Linked DNA regions of Homo sapiens. The protein of the gene in region 5 purifies or fractionates together with the protein of the main gene of each other region. This does not show direct contact. Each region holds a gene or a part of one and is shown on either strand. Other genes may lie near its edges.

Evidence for each region.
Region 1: the proteins of ISOC1 (region 5) and LACTB2 fractionate together in Homo sapiens (co-fractionation; one large-scale study listed by BioGRID). This does not show direct contact.
Region 2: the proteins of ISOC1 (region 5) and PAK2 fractionate together in Homo sapiens (co-fractionation; one large-scale study listed by BioGRID). This does not show direct contact.
Region 3: the proteins of ISOC1 (region 5) and ASNS fractionate together in Homo sapiens (co-fractionation; one large-scale study listed by BioGRID). This does not show direct contact.
Region 4: the proteins of ISOC1 (region 5) and HEBP1 fractionate together in Homo sapiens (co-fractionation; one large-scale study listed by BioGRID). This does not show direct contact.
Region 6: the proteins of ISOC1 (region 5) and UMPS fractionate together in Homo sapiens (co-fractionation; one large-scale study listed by BioGRID). This does not show direct contact.

Annotation. Positions count from the first base shown.
Region 1 is NC_000008.11:70,658,934-70,662,735, reverse strand, and holds part of LACTB2 (endoribonuclease LACTB2), read left to right. Parts: exon of another isoform or gene 1-838; coding exon 839-1,002; exon of another isoform or gene 1,003-2,591; intron 2,592-3,802.
Region 2 is NC_000003.12:196,798,744-196,802,545, forward strand, and holds part of PAK2 (serine/threonine-protein kinase PAK 2), read left to right. Parts: intron 1-3,183; coding exon 3,184-3,284; intron 3,285-3,802. UniProt on the Homo sapiens protein: Serine/threonine protein kinase that plays a role in a variety of different signaling pathways including cytoskeleton regulation, cell motility, cell cycle progression, apoptosis or proliferation.
Region 3 is NC_000007.14:97,865,897-97,869,698, reverse strand, and holds part of ASNS (asparagine synthetase [glutamine-hydrolyzing]), read left to right. Parts: intron 1-519; 5' UTR 520-542; coding exon 543-791; intron 792-3,802.
Region 4 is NC_000012.12:12,983,242-12,987,043, reverse strand, and holds part of HEBP1 (heme-binding protein 1), read left to right. Parts: intron 1-2,401; exon of another isoform or gene 2,402-3,700; intron 3,701-3,802.
Region 5 is NC_000005.10:129,097,520-129,101,321, forward strand, and holds part of ISOC1 (isochorismatase domain-containing protein 1), read left to right. Parts: intron 1-168; exon of another isoform or gene 169-247; intron 248-3,802.
Region 6 is NC_000003.12:124,743,700-124,747,501, forward strand, and holds part of UMPS (uridine 5'-monophosphate synthase), read left to right. Parts: intron 1-215; coding exon 216-385; 3' UTR 386-3,802. UniProt on the Homo sapiens protein: Bifunctional enzyme catalyzing the last two steps of de novo pyrimidine biosynthesis, orotate phosphoribosyltransferase (OPRT), which converts orotate to orotidine-5'-monophosphate (OMP), and orotidine-5'-monophosphate decarboxylase (ODC), the terminal enzymatic reaction that decarboxylates OMP to uridine monophosphate (UMP).

The DNA.
Region 1 (3,802 bases), on a different chromosome or scaffold from region 5:
AGCCTGGGTGACAGAGCAAGACCCTGTCTCAAAAAAAAAAGAATTGGATCTTGAGGAACATGTCACCCCCATGTCTTTAGTTCAGCAAAACTTCACAGAGAAAGGCCACCTCATAAAATCGTGAGGAAGGGCAAACAAAATATAAGGAAGATTCAGAACCACAAGCAAAAAATACAGCTAATGGGGTTGTCTAAGTAAAGAAAGAAAATAGCTCAGATGTTTTTCCCATGCTTCACTAAAGCCTTCATTTTCATGTGTCAGGGTGCTAATATAAAACTTCAGTGATAAGTTGTATATCTAGTGCCAAAGACTAGTTTCTTTAGGGGTGCCATTGAATCAAAATCTTTCATATCTATAAAACTTTTGAAATATACTGAGATATGAGATCTCAAAGGCAGATAGATAAAAGCACATATTCTGGCATCAGAATACCTGGGTTTGAAAGCTGTTTCTGCCATTTATCTGTAGAGTAACCTGGGCAAGTTACTTCTAAATATAATGATAAAATATCTACTTTAAACAGTTGTTACGAGGAATGTAATTGGTAAAATATGTAAAGTCCTTGGAATGGTGCCATGTTTATTTTAATTGCTATGTAAATGTTCAAGATGACTGCTATTATTCCTTGTTCAGACTTATATTTAGCTCTAATTTTTCTCAGAAAACTTTCTTAGGGTGAGATTACTGTAGTTAAGCTGAAGTGATGTAGCTGGTTTTTGTGCATGTTAAAAGTAAAATAATTTTTGCAGTTTCTTTAATGTAAATTATCTGTGTGCAAAATAATGCTAATGTCAACGCAGTGTTCCAATTGTGTGATTATCTTCCATTTAATTTTCAGGAGAATCCTCATTGACACTGGAGAACCAGCAATTCCAGAATACATCAGCTGTTTAAAGCAGGCTCTAACTGAATTTAACACAGCAATCCAGGAAATTGTAGTGACTCACTGGCACCGAGATCATTCTGGAGGCATAGGAGATATTTGTAAAAGCATCAATAATGGTAAACAGAAAACATTCATTAAGCTCATTGAGGAAAGCCGTGTTTGGAGAATAATTTATTTCAGTTACAGAGCTAAGTAGTCTATAAACCATTTACTAAATACCTCAGTTTTAAATGGTACTTTTAGAAATTGATTAGACTGTTGAATACTGTGCCTAGTTTTAACAAAGGAGGAACGGAAATCCTGATTTCTGTTTCAAATCCTCAATTTTACTTTAGTGTGTGAGTTACTATTCAGACTTAATCATAACTAACAACTGTTGAGCATTTACTCTGTGCCAGGCACTGCACTAAACAATTTATGTGGATACTGTGAGGTAGGTGCTCTTATTGTTCACATTCTAACAGATTATCTCAGTCCTTCTGTAACTTTAAGGCAGTTACTAAGATATGCTGAAATTCAGGCAATATATCATTGTATTGATAATTCATTGTCCCTGAAACCTATACAGTACTGACATTTTCTATCTCTTTATTTCCTCATCCCACCATCATATACCTAGATTCATTCATTCATTCATTAAATATTCCAGTTACTGTTATATGTCAGACAGTGTTCTTGGCACAAGGGGTATAGCAGTGAACAAAACAGACTCTGTTCTCATGGAGCTTTCATTCCAGTAGGGAAGGTACTGGTAAATAAATAATAGATCAGGCTGGGTGCAGTGGCTCATGCCTGTAATCCCAGCACTTTGGGAGGTCAAGGTGTGTGGATTGCTTGAGCTCAGGAGTTCAAGACCAGCTTGGGCAACATAGCAAGACCCTGTCTCTACAAAAAAAGTACAAAAATTTCCCGGGTATGGTGGCGTGCACCTGCAGTCCCAGCTACTCGGGAGGCTAAGGTGGGCAGATGGCTTGAGCCAGGGAAGCTGAGGCTGCAGTAAGCCAATATTGTGCCACTGCACTCCAGCCTGGGCACCAGAATGAAAAAAAAAGGGAAAAAAATAGATCAGATAATCATGGGTGCTATGCAGGAAAATAAAGGTACAAGAAGAGAAAGGGAAGAGAGCGTAAAGTGGAGAAGGGCAAGGGCTGTTATATCCAGAGTGGACAGAGAGAAGGAGCAAGCTCCTGGCAGGAAGGCCTGCAGGCAAACAGCATTGCAGGAGCAAAGATGGTGGAATGAGAGTGTGGTTGGCACATTCAGGGCACAGTAAGGAGGTCAAGAACATTCATGCTTATTTACATTGAGCTAGTATTTTTAAACATTTGTAAAGATCTGCTTTTTTAGGCCTTGTGACTACAATTGGGACATCTCAGCTACCACACCCAATATCACCAGGCTGCCAGTTATAAAAAACTGGCAACCAAGCTTCCTTACCCTCTTAGCTCCTTTCTTCCAATCTAAGGGGACTGTGTACCATAGGAACTTATAATCTGTCAGTCTGACTTTTCCTTCTCTTGTCTTACCTCTTTTAATTTTGTCTTACCTCTTCTTTTAATCTACCTATTAAATCTTGTGAATTAAAAAACTATTTTATGCCAGGGACGGTGGTGTGTGCTTATAATCCCATCCACTCAGGAGACTGAGGCAGGACGATAGTTTGAGCCCAGCAGTTCAAGACCAGCCTGAGCTACAAAGTGAAACCCTGTTTGCGGGAAAAAAAAAGAAAAAAAAAAAGAAACTACTCTGTGATTTCTTAATTAGCTTTGTCACCTCAGCCAACTCTTCAGATTTTTCAGTTTGAAAAATTAAAATGTTTATGGCCCACTTTTTTCCTTCATAAATCAATTTTATTGAGCTTTAATTTACATACATAAAATGTGCCCATTTTAAGTGAACAGTTTAGTGAGTTTTAACAAACATCAATACCTATGTGACCATTCCAGTCAAGATATGGAACACTTCCTCCATTCCAAAAAGAGGTCCCCTCATGCTGCTTTGCAGTGATTTCCCCCATCCCCAGCCTCCAACAACCACTCAAATAGGATATGTGTTTTCATTTATATTTGCACATAATTTTGAAGACAGATACAAAGTTATAGTATGACATTTATTTTGTAATTTTGATATAATTGTGATTTTTTAATTGTCTACTAAAGGTCTCATAAGCAGAAATGTAATGCCTCCATTTCTTTACTGAAAGATAAAATTATACAGCTTATAAACAAAACAAACAAAAAAACCTCAATATCTCAATCTTGTTATATAATGTCAATTCCCAGAAAAGCATATCATTGTTTTCCTTCGGCCTCTTAGATACAAAATAATAGAGTTTGGGGTTGGAAGGGGAGGTGGTATTTGTTGTTGTTTCTTTTTATTTCAGTGTTTCTGTCTCCTTTATCCTCAAACTAGCAAATTTCTGTGCCTTGTCCATTTTTCTTTGAAATATCTCTTTCTCCCTTCATATTTCCAGTGCTACCGTCTTAACCCTACTATTCATTACCTTCTAGCTGGGAAATTGTAGTCATTCCCCTCCTGGGCTCTCTGATCTCCTTTTGGTCTCCCTACCCACAGCCGCCATATTGATCATCAGTTAACACTATTTCATTATCTTACTAAAGAGTGTGCAGTGATTACACGTGGTAAAGTTTAAATTCTCCTATTTTGTAAAAGGCAATTTGAGACCCTTTCTGATCTGAGCTTATCTTACCTATCCAACTTTATCTCCACTCTTCCTAGCCAGTATTTTGCAGTAGAAAGTTGGTAGCATTATGTTGTCACACATATGTCATGCTCATTCTCATTTTAATGCTTTATTTTTTTGAGACAGAGTCTCGCACTGTCGCTCGGCCTGGAATGCAATGGCGTGATCTTGGCTCACTGCAACCTCCGCCTCCTGGGCTCATTCGATTCTCC
Region 2 (3,802 bases), on a different chromosome or scaffold from region 5:
AATCGATGGATGTTATTTACTGTATTAACACAATAGAAAGGATGAGCCATGGGTTTGTCTCAATACATGGAGAAAAGGCATTTGACGGAACCCAGTATCCATTGCTGATAGAAGTGTTCAGCAAACTTGGAATAGAAGAGAATGCCCTTTAGCCTCATAAAGGACATCTTTTAAAAACCTACCATTGGCATTAAACTTAAGGGTAAAAAGAATGACAGTTTTTCCTCTTAGATCAGGAAAAATAAAATTTCTCTTCATCCACTTTTATTCAACAATGTACTGAAGGGTCTAGCTAATGTAGTAAGGCAAAAAAAAATTTTTTTTAAGAAAACGAATAAAAGGAATCCAGATTGGAAAGAAGTAAACTTGATTTTATTCACCGACAACATGATTGAATTTTTGTAGCAAAATTGTATATTTACAAAAATACTAGTGGAAGTAAGTGTAATAAGGTTTCAGGATATAAGATTAGTATTCAAGAAACAACTGTGTTTCTTTATGGCTGCAATGAATGATTAAAAAGGGAATTTTAAAACTGCCATTTGCAATAGTATCAAAACCAGGAAATACCGAGGCAGAAATCTGATGAAACAGTGTGCGCTCTGCACTGATAACTACTGCTCTGTTTCTAAGTGTCCCCCAGAGTTCATGTGTTAGAAACTGAAGCCCCAGTAAGAGAGTGTTGAGACATGGGACCTTCAAGAGGCGACGCGAGTGCTCACGGATGGACTCATGTCTTTATTGTGGATGCGAGTTGCTTATAAAAGCCAGTTTGGCCCTCTCCTGCTCTCTTTCTTGCAATGTGATGCCTTCGGCTACGTTATGACACAACAAGAAGGACCCTCACCAGGTGTGGCTTCTTGGTCCTTGACCTGGAGGACTTTCCAGCCTCCAGGAGAACTGTGAGCCAAATGAACTTTTATTTTTTTGAGGCAGTCTCACGCTGTGACTCAGGCTGGGGAGTGCAGTGACACAATCTCGGCTCACTGCAGCCTCCACCTCCTGGGTTCAAGCAATTCTTGTGCCGCTATACTCGGCTGAAGTTTGCATTTTAGATACAGTGTTTTGCCATGTTGGCCAGATGGGTCTTGAACTCCTGGCCTTATGTGATCTGCCCACCTCAGTCTCCCAAAGTGCCAGGATTACAGGCATGAGCTACTGCTCGCAGCCAGCTTCTAATGTTTATATTAATCAATTGCATAGGCAGTGGTATTCTGATAAAGCGTACCGAACGGATGAAGACAACTGCAAACACTGCTGAGAGAAATTTTTAAAGACCTAAATAAATGAAAAGATTTGCTGTTTTCATGGATCAGAAAACTCGGTGTTGTTAAGAAATCAAGAAATAAATTCTCAGCCAGGTGCAGTGGCTCATGTCTGTAATCCCAGCACTTTGGCAAGCCAAAGCAGATGGATCGCTTGAGGCCAGGAGTTTGAGACCAGCCTGGCCAACATGGTGAAACCCCATCTCTACCAGAAATTATAAAAATCAGCCTGGTATGATGGTGCATGCCTGTAATCCCAGCTCCTCAGGAGGCTGAGGTAGGAGAATTGCTTGAACCCGGGAGGCAGAGGTTGCAGTGAGCTGAGATCACGCCACTGCACTCCAGCCTGGGCGACAGAATGAGACTCCCTGTTAAAAAAGAAAAAGAAAGAAAGAAAGAAATTCTCCTTAAAATTCATCTGTATGTACATTCATTCCAATTCTAGTCAGAATTCCAACAGGCTTTCTGTAGAAATTAATAAGCTTATTCTAAAATTAATAGGGAAATGCAGAGGACCTCGATTACCCAAACAGCTTTGACAAAAGAAAAAGAAGACTTATGTGACATAGTTTCAATGCGTATTACAAAATGGCAATAAAATAATCAAGGCAGTCTGATAGTGGCATAAAGGCAGACAAACAGATAATTGCAACAGAGCAGAGCCTTCAGAGATAGACTCACACGTGTACAGACAATTGACTTTCAACAGTGGCTCCAAACAGGAACCAAAATGGCGCTGGCCTTCTAAATGGCAACACTGGAAATGCTGAGGGTTCCAACTTATATATATATAAAATTAGTGAAGAACTATCACTAAAGGGATAAATCAAGAGGAAAACGTAAGATCCAGAAAATAGATTCCAGCACATACAGGGCAGGAGTGAAGGGATGTCATGGACGGTAACTGCAGGAAGCGTAGGCATGAGCTACTGCAGATTAGAGCAGGAGGAGCTGAGAGGGAGGGGGTAGGGGGAAGGAACTGATGTGTTGGAGTTCACAGAGAACATTATTGATAGGTGTGTGGCAGAAATGTTGCAGAAATAATTTACAATCGGACCATAGAAAAACTGCATAGTTTTAAAATGTGGCAATTAGTAACTCCACTAAAAAAGGATTATGCTTGCACAAAAAAGGAGAGGTGGTTTTGTCAACTACTTGTCTTGACAGTGTGTATTATCTGCGGAGTCACAGTAATGCAAATCTGACTTCCTGATGAATGTAGCTGAGTGGAAATGGGGTTTGCTGTGTTTGCTGTCCACATTGCTCAGCATCTGAGATGTAGCCCTTTGTGAGAGAGCTGGTGCCCGAAGGGGGTGTCTCTTCTGCCTGTGCTCTGTTACTCAGGCCTGCCGTTGGTCACTCCATGTGCCTCCTCAGTGTTTGGTTGTGTCCAGCCCTACTCTATGGCAGGACAGTCTGCTTTACTTCATTTACTAGTTTCCTATCAGCCAGTTTTTAGGGGAAATCTTTTCTAGAATAACTTTGATTCTAGTGTGTTTTCTAGAATAACTTTGATCCTAATATGTTTTAGGAAAAATATAAACATAATATGCCGGGCATGCGGTGGCTCACATCTGTAATCTCAGCACTTTGGGAGGCCAAGGCAGGTGGATCAGGAGTTTGAGACCAGCCTGATCAACATGATGAAACCCTGTCTCTACTAAAAATACAAAAATTAGCCGGGCATGGTGGTGGGCACCTGTAATCCCAGCTACTTGGGAGACTGAGGCAGGAGGATGGCTTGAACCCGGGAAGCAGAGGTTGCAGTCAGCTGAGATTGCACCACTGCACTCCAGCCTGGGCAACAAGAGCGAAACTCCATTTAAAAAAACAAAAGACAAAAAATAAAATTATAAGTGCCTTTACTAGTCTTGTTTAAATAGGCTGATTCTTTCTCTTTTTTTCTAATGCCCCCTAGGAAGTAAAAAGAAAGAAAAGGAACGGCCAGAAATTTCTCCTCCATCTGATTTTGAGCACACCATCCATGTTGGCTTTGATGCTGTTACTGGAGAATTCACTGTAAGTTAACCTAGTTCGGGCCCATTTATAACGTTTAAAATAGCACTCAAACATTTTCCTTCATTATTAAATTTGAAATTAACATTTCAGGCCAGGTGCGGTGGCACACGCCTGTAATCCCAGCACTTTGGGAGGCCAAGGCTGGCAGATCATTTGAGGTCAGGAGTTCGAGACCAGTGTGGCCAACATGGTGAAACCCCATCCCTACTAAAAATACAAGAAAATTAGCCAAGCGTGGGGGTGTATGCCTGTAATTCCAACTACTCAGGAGGCTGAGGCAGGGGAATCATTTGAACCTCGGAGATGGAGGTTGCAGTGAACAGAGACTGTGCCATTGCACTCCAGCCTGGGCAAGAAGAGTGAAACTCCGTCTCAAAAAAAGGGAAATTAACATTTCTATCTATACGTTAACTATGAATTCTTACTGCTTTTTGCTTTTTATAAAAGTGTTAGTGGTTGGATATATCGTTTTCCTAGAGAGCAGAGCCTATTAATTATAGTTATGCAAAACAGACTTA
Region 3 (3,802 bases), on a different chromosome or scaffold from region 5:
ACCCATTATATGGTACCTGCAGCTAGTTCAGATAAAGAGGGCATTTAACTGTCAAGGGAACCTGAGAGGAGACTCTAGTAATCTGGAAAGTCTGTTGGATCTTTGAGGGATTTTGGGATGGTGAGAGTGGGGCTAGGATCTCTGGCTAGGTTGGAGCCAGCCTGCATTTGTATCTGTATCTTGGAAGCAAACTTAGAATGCAGAGACAGATGTGGCATGGACGCTGTCAGCTCTAGCCAACCACTAAATCCTAAGGTGGGAGAGATGCAGGCTTTGGCTAGGTGCTAAGCTGCTGTAGCCGGTTGAATGTAGAGGTCACTATCTTTTCCGAATACCTGTAAGTAAATTAAATCATTCTCTACTCCCATGTGCCTGCCAACCTAATGGGAAATCGCTATAGAAAAGATGGTTTAAATTTTAGTCTTTGAAGTGGTTTATGCACGTTTCCGGAATCAAGATTTAATGCAGAGTTGGATTGGATATTGAATATTTTTGATTTGTCTGCTTTTCTCTCCATAGAAAGCTTATAGCTTCATTGCACCATGTGTGGCATTTGGGCGCTGTTTGGCAGTGATGATTGCCTTTCTGTTCAGTGTCTGAGTGCTATGAAGATTGCACACAGAGGTCCAGATGCATTCCGTTTTGAGAATGTCAATGGATACACCAACTGCTGCTTTGGATTTCACCGGTTGGCGGTAGTTGACCCGCTGTTTGGAATGCAGCCAATTCGAGTGAAGAAATATCCGTATTTGTGGCTCTGTTACAATGGTGAAATCTACAACCATAAGAAGGTGAGGAGAAAGAAACCAGATGTCTGGATGCGATTAAACTTCAGAGTTTGTTGGTTACGATGATGTTACATATTCTGTATCATGCTTTTTCCTTTGCAAAGCACTCTATGTTCGTTATCTCATTTGCTCTAAGTATGTAAATAGGGAACTGATGAATAAAAAGGTGAGTGAAATGACTTGGTCACAAAAAAAGTGATAAAAATGGGGATTACAGTTCAGTTTCATTGACTCTTAGAATTTTTTCTCCTTCTCCCCAGCTTTTCATTTTGAAAAAATTCCTAACATACAGTAAAGAACAGAACAACAAGCACCTAGATTAAATAGTCATTAATGTTTTGCCATAGTTGCTTGATTTTTCTTTCTACACACACACACACACACACACACATGTTTTTGCTGAATCATTTGAGAGTACAGTGCAGATATTATGACACTCCTAAATATATAAGCATTTATCTCCTAAGAATAAGGACATTCTTCTACATAACATCAATGCCATTATTAAACCTAAGAGTCCATAATACCACCTAATATCCAGTTAATACTTAAATGAAATTTCCCTAAGTGTCCCAAGAATATTTTTATTTATTTATTTATTTTGAGACAGAGTCTCATTCTGTCACCCAGGCTGGAGTGCAGTGGTGCGATCTCGGCTTACTGCAACCTCTGCCTCCCAGGTTCAAGCAATTCTCCTGCCTCAGCCTCCCAAGTAGCTGGGACTACAGGCACCTGCCACCATGCCCAGCTAATTTTTTGTATTTTAGTAAAGACAGGGTTTCACCATGTTGCCCAGGGTGGTCTGGAACTCCTGAGCTCAGGTAATCTGCCCACCTTGACCTCTCAAAGTGCTACCAAGAATATCTTTATAGCTGGTTCTTGTTTGTTTTGAGCCAGATTTCATTCAAGGTTCATGCATTTGGTTGGTATGTTTCTTGGTATTTTTTGAGACTTCTTGATAGATACCTGTCAGGCATTGATAGAGATTTACATCCTAATCACATTTTGGACATTTTTATCTGTGAACAATAGCTTTTGTCATTGTTTGTTGCCTGCTCATAGGAAGACTCTTAATAATAGTCTTCTCATTTAAAAAGTTTTAAAATAGTTATTCAGGAAATTCCTTTTACACATTTCTTTATTCCTTTATTAAGGGTCTACTATGCACCAGACATCATTTTTCTAGGTGATTGGAGATGAAATGGTGAAAAGGAAAGGCAAGAATGGAATTTCCTGCTAGTGGGAGGTAGAAGAAGAGAGTATTAAAAATTTTTTCTAAGTCAAATAATGTCATATACATGAGAACGCTAGGTGGTATTATGGCATTATCAGCTTGGCTTTCCCCTTAAATGAAATAGGAAGTGCCCTGTTTCACTTGAACAGTGTTATTTCTTTTATTAAAAAGTTACAAGAAGTTAAATATTTTGAAAATAATTAATTTCTATTCTAAATTAGCCAAATGTTATATTTGTAAAAGTAGAGAAGTTTGTTCCATTGCTTCTACCAAGCATCTAAGTTTATGTAGTTGGGGCAGCTAGCAGTCTGTCTAATGAGCAGAATGTATACTTTAGGCTTATATAAAGTATTCAGAAATCCCCCCCACACCTCCTTTTTGGTAAAAATAAAGTTTACCACTACAATAAAATACAGCCAGAGGTGTACTGGGAGTAGAAGGAGACTGAATGAAAGAAAGGAGGAATGGGGTAAAGGCTGGGGCAAAGAGCAGGCCCTCTCCCTGCAGGGGAGTATCAGGGCCTGCAGCCAAGTCAAATGACAGCATGACGTCAGGAGGCAAGATTTGAGGGCTTTTATTTAAGGTGCAGCATTGGAGTTTGGTTTTAGGAGAGTAGGAAGTAATACATCCGTTACCCAAAGGACCCTTCTCCTTTTTAAATAAGTTACCTGCAAAGTTTAGGCCAAAGAGGTGGGTAAGGTAGATTTGGGAAGCTGTTGCTTACTAATATCACCGAATGCTTTATGGTCACTAACCCTTCAGGCAGTTCAGCCCAGAAGAGTCAGCAGAAGACTGTTTACAGGCCCCCACCTGCTAGTTACAGATCATCCCTGATAGAGCAGAGAGGGGTGACCAGGTAGTGACTTTGTAGTCACTGGAGGCAAAGCCCATTTTTGGACAGTTCAGTGAGGACTTATAGACAAAAGATTCACAAATTATGGAGTGAGTTGGATGGAGTGTGAAGCATATTTATGGGTCATGCACATACATAATAGGTTTACTTTTTGAAATTTGAAAGCATGTTTTAAGCTTATCTAGGATTTCCACCTGATTTAAACCTCTTCTTTCTCTAATGTCAGCCAAAAACCCGAGTACAAAGAAGAAAGAGGAATACATCAAGGACTTTTCATCCTCATAGTTTGCCATTAATGGCTCATAGTTTGCCGTTGATGGTGGAGAGTGTCAGAATTGGGGAGTAGCCTAATCAAACCTTCTTACTCTGCATGCAGTGGCAGACAGTCCCTTTGCTGTTCTTTTGGGGAATGCAGACTAATAAAGCGCCACCGTCATTTTATCTATCAGTAAGGAGTAGCTTTAATGCTGCTGCAGTGGTGGAAGCACTGGGCATTGTCATCCACCCCTGGGGACCAGCAGCTTTGTTTTGGATCATGTATCTGTTATTGTGATGGAGCCATTTATTTTTCAGGGAATGATGCCAAATGATGTTTGTCCCTTTGCTTTACATTTTTATAGCTAGGACTTTGAAGCTGAACTGGAGGAACTTCTTAGCCAATACTATCTTCTCAAATCAAAAGTTTATAGTTGCAAAAGACACGTTTTTTAGTGTCATGGCAACCAGGCAACCTATTATCTTAACTTAAATTTAGAGGTTGAGCATCCCTAATCTGAAAATCTGAAATTTGAAATGCTCCAAAATCTGAAACTTTTTGAGCACTGACATGACATTACATGTGCATTTTGATGTCACAGTCAAAATGCAGGTGTAAAACACGCAGTTTATTTGGCGTTCCCTAGGGAAAAAAGACCCTCTCAGCCCGCT
Region 4 (3,802 bases), on a different chromosome or scaffold from region 5:
ATTTAAGTAGGAAATGCTGAATCCTAACAGTTTCTCATTTTAATTTCTTCAGGCTGCAGCACACACACATTTGCATTTTATCAGAATAAATGCCTTGGCCAGTTGCCAAATTGATGGGACGAGCTTAAGCTTTGCTTAAGCTTACAGTGAATGTCTACATTAGCCATAGCAGGGTTCTAGGAGACTCAGCAAATATCTTAAGTCAAGCCATGGTCTGGATTCGTGGACACATGGGAAGCATAAAGGGCTGAGGAATACCTGATTTCTACCCCACACTCCCTTTGAATGCCAGAGAGCAGGGAGCATTTGCTAGAGCTGGGCTTCCATCCTCCTTGTTGTTCCTGGATGGTAGTCCTTTGAGCAGAGCACACATCTATTCTCTTGTCATCCTGGTCCTGTTTCCAGGACTTCATGTGGGGTCATTTTCCCTTGACTGTAGAGAATAGCAGGTGCAAATGGTTACTAGTTTCTATCCCTTGTGCTCCAAACTGCCCTCAGAAACCAAGTCTTCTAGATCATTGATGACTCCTCACATTTGTTAAAACACTCCCATGTGACAGGCACCAAACCAGGCTCAGGGAAAGACCAGGATCTTCACCAGAAGTAATCATAGGTGGTTTGGCTCCGCTCAGGAGCAACCTCATGAAAAATTCACATACATATAATATTGCACTGGACTGAGTATTGGTCCACTTCAGGGACCTCCAAACTTGGCTGCCCTGCTGCAACCCTGAACCTGATGGTGGGACCATTTTCCCCGGAGCTGTGTCAATGTTCTGAGAATGTGAGTTTCACCGCTGTGTGTAGTCCTAGGCCAGGTGACTGCAGGGCCCTCCAGAGGACAGTGAATGTAATGCAGCTGGGAGCTAGCACCGGAGCCTCAGCTCCTGTGCTTGTCCTGCAGTCCTCATTCAGACTTCCCAGCTTCCCTTCAGAGGGTGTGGAGAAAGCAAATTAACTTAACAATATCTTTTCCTAGGGTGGAGATGCACCTTGGGTGCAGCATTTAAGGAAGCACTCACTCTCACAGCTGTCCAAGTGCAGGATGGGGACTGAGAGTGAGCGCCTCCTTAAATCTTGTGCCCTGGGTTAGATGTCTGCTTGTCTTTTCCATTCTATTTCCTGTGTTTGGGAAGCAGCAGGTATAATAAAATGAACTTGTATTTTATTTGAATTCCAGCTCTACTGCTTACTAGCAGAATGATGCTTGGGAAGTTAGCCACTTTAAGACTTAGCTTTTGCATTTGTTAAGTGCTGATAATATAACCTCCTATATATGATGTGTGTGTGTGTGCATGTAATGTAACCTTATAGGATTATTGTTAAATATCTTTCAGTATTTACTAAGATACTATTTATGTATTACCTAATGTTTATGACCTGAAGCAGGTTTTGGCAATTACCCCTTCTGTCTGTTCATTCTTATTTCATAAGGAATGAGATAGACATGATTGAATCAGTTCACATTAAGACTTCAAGCAGATGGGGCTAGTTTCTGATCATTTGTTTTACCAGACCCTGAGTAATGAGTGGATATAATTTTTTTTTCTTTTGTCTTTAACTTTTTAGTATGGGAATTTTCAAACTTATAGAAAGGTAGAAGCATATAAGATCATGAAATCATATGTGCCCATCCCCTACCTACAGCAACGATCAGCTCAAGGCCAATTCTGTGTCATGTGTATCTTCACAGCATTCACCCAGCCCTACCCTGGATTATTTTTAGGCAAATTCCAGACATTATATTATTTCATTCATAAATATTTCAGGTAATTACTGAAGATTTTTTTAAAATATAATCACAATACCTTTTTTCTGAAATTTCAATAGTACTTCATTAATTTATAATATAAAATATTCAATGCTCAGATTTCCCCCATTACTTTTTTTTTTTTTCCAACGGAGTCTCTCTCTGTTGCCCAGGCTGGAGTGCAGTGGTGCGATCTTGGCTCACTGCAACCTCTGCTGCCTGGGTTCAAGCAATTCTCCTGCCTCAGCCTCCCAAGTAGCTGGGAGTACAGGAACCTGCCACTGTGCCTAATATTTGTAGTTTTTTAGTAGAGACAGGGTTTCACCATCTTGGCCAGGCTGGTCTTGAACTCCTGACCTTGTGATCCACCTGCCTCGGCCTCCCAAAGTGCTGGGATTACAGGCGTGAGCCACCACGCCTGGCCATCATTTGTTTTAATATTTTGTTAGAATCTGGATCCAAGTCAGATTTTGTAGTACTTTCTTTTTGTTGTTGTTGTTAAGAGACAAGGCCTTGCTCTGTTGCCCAGGCTGCAGTGCAGTGGTGTGATCATAGCTCACTGCAGCCTCAAACTCCTGGGCTCAGGTAATCCTCCCACCTCAGCCTCTCAAGTAGCTGGTACTACAGTTGCACACAACCACACCTGGCTGATGGTACATTTTTAAGCTTTTATTAATCTGTGAATTTCTTTACCAACACAACTTTACATTCTTCCTTTCCATCTGTGGATCATTTGTCTTCTTATTATCTGTACTGGATTTTGCTGATTATATTTCCGTGACATTTTACCACATCCCTCTGAGCCCCGTATTGCCTGTAAATTAGTAGTTGAAACTAAAGACTAGATCAGATTCAAGTTTTTGAAGTTTTGGTGAGAATATTTCCTACGTGGTGGTGTTTACTTCCTTCAGGGGCCCACAGTGTCTGATTGTCCCTGATTGAGTGATGTTGGTGACCATAGTTCATCATTGCCTAGATGTCTTGTTCCATTAGAGGCCATAAAACGATAATGTTCTCTGTTTCTCCTTCTTCTTTTATTACCTGCAATATTTCAGTAAAGAGAAACTTCCCCTCGTTTACTATTTGGCTTCCTTTATTTCATATAGAAAAAGCCAGATACATGCTTACTTGATACCTTCTCTTTATTTACCAGTTTTCAGAATGATAATTTCATTCTGTAACATCCTCAAGGTAAAGTGGTCTGCATCTTCGTTTTTTGAGTGTAATTATAAACATATGAATTTAAACATATTTGATACGTTTCAGTTTGTTACAGATATTATTCTTATTGATGCTCTAATTGCCCCACTGTTGGCCAGCGGGAGCCTCTTCAAGTTGGTTTGTTGGTCCTTTTGACACAGCTCCAGTAGTCGTTGATGGCTCCCTGGCTTGCTGGTATAATGAGATGTTTTGAGCACATCTTAGCATTTCTTGCCCTAGAGCTAGAATTAGCCATTTCTCTAAGGAACGCTGGTTTCTTATGGTGGGAAGGGGTATACGGGTACTATCAAAGGCAGGTCGGTGACCATTTCCTTTTAATTCTCTGAAATCTAAACAGCTGAAAGTGCCAAATGTGGTGTCTAGCCTGGCTCCATGGAATTTTTAACACGGAGTTCTCACACAGCATATGATCATTCCTCAACTCGCCACTTGATGTCACTGCATAGTCAAATGAGCATTCAAAATTACCCTGCAGTGGTTTGTGTTATTTCTGATTCTGTTGAAAGCAATGTTAATGAGATGGTAGAAGGCAAATGTACTACTTCAAATGCAAAAGTACTCTATCAAATAATGCAGTGAGTGCATTCAATGACAAAATTAATTCTAAAATGAAAGCCTGGCGTCCTTCATTCAGTCTTCCTTCTTTATGACCTTGTGAAGAGATGTTTACAAAGGGATTATACATTTATTAGCATCGTTAATTACCGGTGCTTTTAGATGAATAGAATGCTGTGAAAAAAAATAGCACTATCAGAATATGTTTAGTATTCACAAGAGGCAATAGAATTATCCTCACACTTAGACCAGCAGCAACATTCCAGACTACTGTCC
Region 5 (3,802 bases):
GACCATACAGTTCATTCCACAACATGTGAGTGGCAGCTTTAAATGCCTGGCACAGTGAATGCAAACTTGGATTCAATTCTTGTTCCTTACCTAATAAATGAACTTTCACTTTGAGGAAGTGCAGAAGAACATAGGGAGGTGGAGGTGAGTAACTTGCTGCAGGTTACATGGCAAGTCTCCGCATATGCCTGGCTAGCTCCTCCACAAATGCGTGTGGAGGAGCTAGCCAGGCATATGCAGAGCGTCACTTACAGCCGAACACAGCACTACTGCTTGCATGTTTAATGAGAATTGAGCAGTCTGGAAAACAAGTCACAAACTTGAGCTCTTGTTTGTTCATTTGTCTTGGTGCTGCTCCTTGTTCTTTGGAATAAATGCTTGTCACTTAGGAAGACTCAAGGTGGCCTATCGGTGAGTCCATGTTACTGGGGATGGTTGGCCCCTTCTTGAAGGCAGGGACAAAGAGCACAAGTTTGGCCACATGTAGTTCATTGCGTAAATAGTGATTTATTATTTCTCCACACTTGGGCCCTGGAGCCTCTGTGGCCCTGGCTCACGTACTGTTAGTCTAGAATGTATTCTTCATTTGCGCCGTGGTATGAGTTGCCTTCGTGCTTATTCTGACAGCTGTGGCTGATGACCTTGTGAAACACAGTGGCTGCCTTTGCCACACTGCACCCGTGCTTGTTAGTGGTTCTATGAGAACTGATCTTTAAGACCCCCCATTGCCAGTATTAGGCTGTGGTAAGTTTTTGGTGACTTCTTTTCTTAAATATTCTGTCAAAGTAACAATGTCTGCCGACAGCTCAGGTAGATGAAGGCATAGCTCATGTTTCATGCTTGGTTTGTATGTCTGCAGCTTTGCCAAATGCTTGAGATCTGATGAATTTTGAGACACGGGAAAGAATATAAATGAGAGGATTATGTAGTGGGGATTTACGTCATTTTTATGACTTAAAAGTTTTAATTTTTCAAAAGGTATTTTGTAAGTTTTAGGTAAAGGAAACATTTAACTATGGAAATTTACATAAATGTTGTATCATGCTACCACCAGTGCATTTTCCAGCCTGTGGCCAGGAAAGACAGAGCCTGCAGAGAAGAGAGGAGGAAATGGACAGTGTAAGAAGGATGCCAGTGAGGGGATTTTACTTCTGTACATAGCAGGGAAGGCTTTGGCAGCTTTCTGTGGCCAGAAGATAAGGGCGTTCCAGGGAAGGTTATTTTGACCTTTTCCCAAGATGGTTAACTGGCAGGGCATTTTGCTCCAGCTTTCATTTTCTTGGAAGTTTATTACTATTATTATTATTTTAAACAGGGGCATGAACATTTTATAGCTAGAAGAGACTGACAGGTTCATGGTGGGAAGGGAGGGAAGGCAGGAGGAAAGGAACCTTGTTCGCCTTTGGCTTGATAGTTTGAAGGTAGTGGTTTTTGATTACAAAACCTTTGCCTCAGGAGCGTGGCAGGAAGAGGGGGTAGATGAGCTAATGCTCAGAGAGGAGACAGCTGGATCCTGAGGTGGTTGTATTGTCTCTACCCCATTGGTTTGATGTGTGTCACTTAAAAAAAAATTAACATTCCAGAATAATACCTAAAGCATTGTATCCTTTTTTGCTCCTTCTGAATACATTAGAGCTACCTATAAATAAACTGTGTTTGAGAGTAGGAGCTATGATCTGAATTTTGAATTTTTTTTCTTGCATTTAGCTAACCAAGGGAATCCCAATGTAGATTCAAATGTCATTGTGGTCCTGGGCTTGTCTAGCTTCACCTTCACCCCAGTCTGAGGCACAGTCTTAAGAAATCCTTCAGTCCTCACCCCTGGGGTGGGTGGAGACAGCTGGCGTCCCTTGGGGATTTAGAAAACTCATACCTTAACTGATAAGCTAGGGTTGTAACCTTATGCCAGTGACATCAATGTTCACAATAGGTGAATATGTTGTAAAAATAAGAGCCAATAAGTATTATTTCACAGCCTAAATTAAAAAGTCCCTGATCTGTTTTTCCAGGAACAATCTTGTCTTAGTGATTTGGTAAGGTCTTGGTAACATCTGGAAATCTACTTTATAAATCACTTTATGATTCACTTTCCTTATTCTGCATATTATGTTAACATAACAAGTTATGCAATGTTAGCATTCCTATAAATATATTTATAGGTTTCTAAAGGGATCTTAATTGTAAATATTTATCCTCATTAGAGGGTAAGTTTTTTAACATATGCTAAGTTTTAGAGTGTAGTGTTTAATATATGAGGGACATCAGAATAGCCTAATACATTTATTGATTGATTATATGAAGCCCATTTAATCCTTGAAATACCCCTATGATGTAGATACTATTTTTCTTGCTGTGTTACAGATAAGGAAATTGCATATGGAGATATTTACCTAAGTTCATGTAATCGAAATTAGTGAAATTGAGATTTGCACTCAGATTCTAATGCCTACTGAGGCTTGTGCTATAAAGGGGATCTTTGTAACCTGGGGGAGTCACATCACAGACCTCTGTTGTAAGTGAGTTGACATTGGAGCCAGGCCTTACTATAGCTGTGGTCATCGGATTTCCTCAGAAACACTTGGGAGTGAAATAACGATGCCCCAGGTCCCCTTCCAGACTTTCTCCCAAACAGATCATGCCTATTTTGTGACTCTAATTGACTACCAAATTTTTTAAACATCGCATTTACAGTTTCAAATTTTAATTATTCCAAATCCCTATAGTAATTTGCTATGGGCTGGGTGATGTGAAAAGTCTTTTGAGTATGAAATCTAAGGTCAAATCCCAGCTATGACAATTCTTAAGAAAGTAGACAAAATATTTATACTTGAATCTGATCTCTTAAACTCTTGCTTGAGGAAGCCATTGGCTATGATCAACTTTTTATATTTAAATATATATATATTTGTATATGTATCATGTGCAAATGTGTGTGTAGGACTATGTGTAGGCATATAGATATACGAAGGTGTGTGGATACATATATTTATATGTGATTTGTTTATATTCCTTAAATATGCATAGATCTGTAATTGCTATGCTTTTACTCCTGGTGACATTTGGTCCAGTCCACTTTTAATTTGCTGAGGCAGGACTGGCTGTCTTACAGTTGCAACATGTAAATGTTTGGCTACTGGCGATATTTTTTAATTACCTTAAAGATTTTGGTTTAAGAGAACTTCATGAGTCAAAGTAAGAAATTTCCGAAATTTAGAGAGTTGTATGATTTTAACAGCCTGTTGGAATTCATGTGGATTTGGGGTGAGGATTTGGGAGGATTGGTTGGACATGATTAAAGTTTTTCAGTATGTTTTTGGTAGCCACAAAAGTTCCTTTCTGTTTGTAAGGTATAGACGTTATTCCCCCAAATATCATAGCATAGGGAGGCCATTAAAAAAAAAAAACTAACTTTTTATTTTAGAATAGCTTTAGATTTACAATAAAGTTGTAAAGATAGTACAGAGAGTTCCTATATTCCTGTACCCAGATTCCCTATTGTTTTTGTTTGTTTGTTTGTTTGTTTGTTTGTGAGACAGGGTCTTGCTCTGTTGCCCAGGCTGGACTGTAGCCTCGACCTCCCGTTCTCAGAGGATCTTCCCACCTCAGCCTCCTGAGGAGCTGGGCCACCAAGCTCAGCTAATCAAAAAAAAAAAAAAAAAAAAAAAAAAAAAAAATATATATATATATATGGTTGGGTTGGGTGTAGTGGTTCACACCTGTAATCCCAGCACTTTGGGAGGCCAAGGCAGGCAGATCCCTTGAGCCCAGGAATTCAAGACCAGCCTGGGCAACATGGTGAAAC
Region 6 (3,802 bases), on a different chromosome or scaffold from region 5:
AAAGGAGTTGGTGATCATCTTTCTCCATTTGACGTCTCTGGCCTACCCAGTGAGTCTCTTCAGCTCCTGTTTTTACGCAGTTGCTGTACAAAAGGGGAACGAAAGTAGGGGCATGTTTTTATTTAAAGCTGGTTAGATACTTTTTCAGAGAAGTCATGTGACAGGTTTTCTGATTTTTGTATTATGTGAAACAACAATTTTTGTGTTTCTTGCAGGAGATAATCTTGGCCAACAGTACAATAGCCCACAAGAAGTTATTGGCAAACGAGGTTCCGATATCATCATTGTAGGTCGTGGCATAATCTCAGCAGCTGATCGTCTGGAAGCAGCAGAGATGTACAGAAAAGCTGCTTGGGAAGCGTATTTGAGTAGACTTGGTGTTTGAGTGCTTCAGATACATTTTTCAGATACAATGTGAAGACATTGAAGATATGTGGTCCTCCTGAAAGTCACTGGCTGGAAATAATCCAATTATTCCTGCTTGGATTCTTCCACAGGGCCTGTGTAAGAATGGGTTCTGGAGTTCTCATGGTCTTTAGGAAATATTGAGTAATTTGTAATCACCGCATTGATACTATAATAAGTTCATTCTTAAGCTTGCTTTTTTTGAGACTGGTGTTTGTTAGACAGCCACAGTCCTGTCTGGGTTAGGGTCTTCCACATTTGAGGATCCTTCCTATCTCTCCATGGGACTAGACTGCTTTGTTATTCTATTTATTTTTTAATTTTTTTCGAGACAGGATCTCACTCTGTTGCCCAGGATGGAGTGCAGTGGTGAGATCACGGCTCATTGCAGCCTCGACCTCCCAGGTGATCCTCCCACCTCAGCTTCCAGATTAGCTGGTGCTATAGGCATGCACCACCACGTCCATCTAAATTTCTTTATTATTTGTAGAGATGAGGTCTTGCCATGTTACCCAGGCTGGTCTCAACTCCTGGGCTCAAGCGATCCTCCTGCCTCAGTCTCTCAAAGTGCTGGGATTACAGGTGTGAGCCACTGTGCCCAGCCTAATTGCAGTAAGACAAAAATTCTAGGGCACCAAGAGGCTAAAGTCAGCACAGCTTTTCTTGTGTCCTGTATTCTCTGTCTAATGTGTTGCCCAAATAATACCTAATTGTTAGCCATTCCCCTCCATCTCTGGCCTAAAAGTGATAGTCCAGGTATCCACATGGGCTGGTTCCCAGAACTGCCATTGCTCACTCTCCAAAGAGGGGAAGGTGGGGAAGGGGAAGGTGACTATAGCTCAGCTCCTGAGCTAGTATCTGGCTGTTATTTCAACAACCGGAGTTGGGGTTTGGGCTCATTTTTTCCCCTAGCCAGCAATTATGGACCAGTAGTAACACAAGTGACAGCTTCCTGTGACTGACTTCACAATTAGGAGGTCTAAGATTCCATTTGGGTATTTGCTTAAGGATCCCACATAATTGTCCCAACGGTCATTAGTAGAGGGGAGGTAAGCCTTCATTAATAATAAAGAGAAAGCCCACATTCAAGGTGGTGTTTGAGCAGGGGCAGGGTGAGGGCTGTCCCGGTGCTCATTGCACCAGCACACTCACATTCCTTCTCATTTGGGGCCCACCTGCAGGAAGTGGCACAGGATCAGCCATTTCCCCACCCTTGTCAGCTGATGGCCCACTGTTCTTTAATGACTCAGAGGAATGCCTAGGATTTTTTTTTTTTTTTGAGACAGAATCTCACTGTCGCCCAGGCTGGAGTTCAGTGGCACGATCTCGGCTCACTGCAACTTCTGCCTCTCTGGTTCAAGCAGTTCTCCTGCCTCAGCCTCCCGAGTAGCTGGGACTACAAGCCTAGGATTTTTAACTCAGGTTTTTATTATATTCCCTCCTGAAGTTTTTACTTCAAGAGCTTCTGCTCTAAAGTCCAATTTGGGCTTCATGTCCCCAGTGCTGCATCTCCAGGGAAATGCTGTCTGTGGGAGAGACCAACTCTCAAGGAAGAAGTGGCCACAGAAGGAGCAGGAAGGGAGTTGGCCCTCAGGGCTACTCTGGGGAAGCCAAAAGTCATGAAGGGGAGAAGAATTTTCTGACAAAAACTTGCAGGAATCTCTTAGGTGTCTTCAGTGTTGGAGTGATATGTTGAGAGGCCTTTGGAGTGATGTGCTGAGGTCTCAGGCGCCCACCTCCCTGGCTGTCACTTCCATGTGTCAGTGGTTCTCCCACTTTAGCAGGTATCAGAGTCACCTGGAGTCTTGTCAAAACAGGTACCAGCCCCACCCGCAGCGTTTCTGACTCTGGGTAGCTCTGGGATGGGGCTTGAGAATTTGCGTTTCCAAAAAGGTCCCAGGTGATGCTGCGGTTGCCTGCGCAGGGACTGGACTTTGAGAACCACTTCACTGGTTATTCACATTTCTGCCTCTGCAGTGAGACAGCCTTGAGGTCTGCCTCCTGCTAAGAGTCACATGCTCCTGTCCTTTAGAAATGTGGGCTCCTGCCATCTCCAGGACGCAGGCACTGTTCCTGTTGATGAACCCTATTTCACAGGACCCCTGCTAAGGTGATTTGAGGGGAAATGAGAGGAGGCTCAAATAATCACCCAGCCCCTGCCACTTACTGAAAGTGTAGGTCCTTGTGCCCCACACCATCAGAGTTTCTGCGTTAGCAGATTTGTGGTTTGCCCAGCAGCCTGGGCGTGTGCATTTCTAATGGGTGCCTCAAGTGATCTGTTTCTGATTTGTATTTCTATTGTGAAGAGTCAGCCCAGTACTGCAGGCCTCTTACCTAAGCAGAATCCCAGTCTGGCATCAAAGCTTTAGAGGACAAGTTGATTCAGGCAGAGAAGAACTTGGGCTATACAAGCGCTGTTCTTCAGCATTGAAGTATTTTGGAGGCATTAGATAGTTTAACCCTTTCTCAGTCAAGGAATATTTACAGAACATGATCTCTGGGCATTGTAACTCCTGGTCTTAGTGGGGAATATAGGGACCCCATGTCTCCATGGGGTGCACAGAATGTCTGTGAGACTGATGGAGTGGAGAACGCCATCCCCCAGCCTCTCCAGCTACTCGAGGCATTCTGTAGAACATAAGCCCATAGATTGTGTGTGTGTGTGTGTGTGTGTGTGTGTGTGTGTGTGTGTGCATGCGCGCGCGTGCGCACTGGAGGAACCTAAGAAACTATTTGGTGCACTTCCTCTTATTTTAGAGCTCCCAAAGTGTAGCTCCAGAATCGTAAAGGGATATGCTCAGTCTCACAGCCAGCCTGTGGATCTCAGTCCCAACACTCACCCTTGTGCTACTGAGTCAGCTCTAAGAAAATCTGCCAAAAGTAGGCCGAGGGCTGGTTTTTTGTTTTGTTTTGTTTGTTTGATACAGGGTCTTCACTCTGTTGCCCAGGCTGGAGTATATCATGGCTCACTGCAACCTTGACTTGGGCTCAAGCGATCCGCTCAAGTAGCTGGAACTACTCTCAAGTAGCTCTCAAGAGCCTCTCGAGTGGCTGGAACTACAGGCGTGCACCACCACAGCTGGTTAATTTTTAAAATTTTTTGTAGAGACGGTGGAGGAGGTTCTCACTGTGACTCAGTGTGTGCCCGACAGCAGAGCCCACACCACTCCAGTTGCAGTGGTTGCCATCTGGGTCATCAGACCTGGCTGTCAGGGGTGCAGCCACAGGAGAGCCAACAGCAGAGGGTGCTGGCCGCTGAGCTAGCTGCTAATGCTGGCCTGGGTGCAGTTCTCATCCAAAGTACCCGGTGGGTGGGAGTCACTCAGTACCAGTTCCGAGCCTGAACCCAAACTCTCGTGTTTCTGCTCACCCCTCTCTGGCTTCTGCCACCACATGG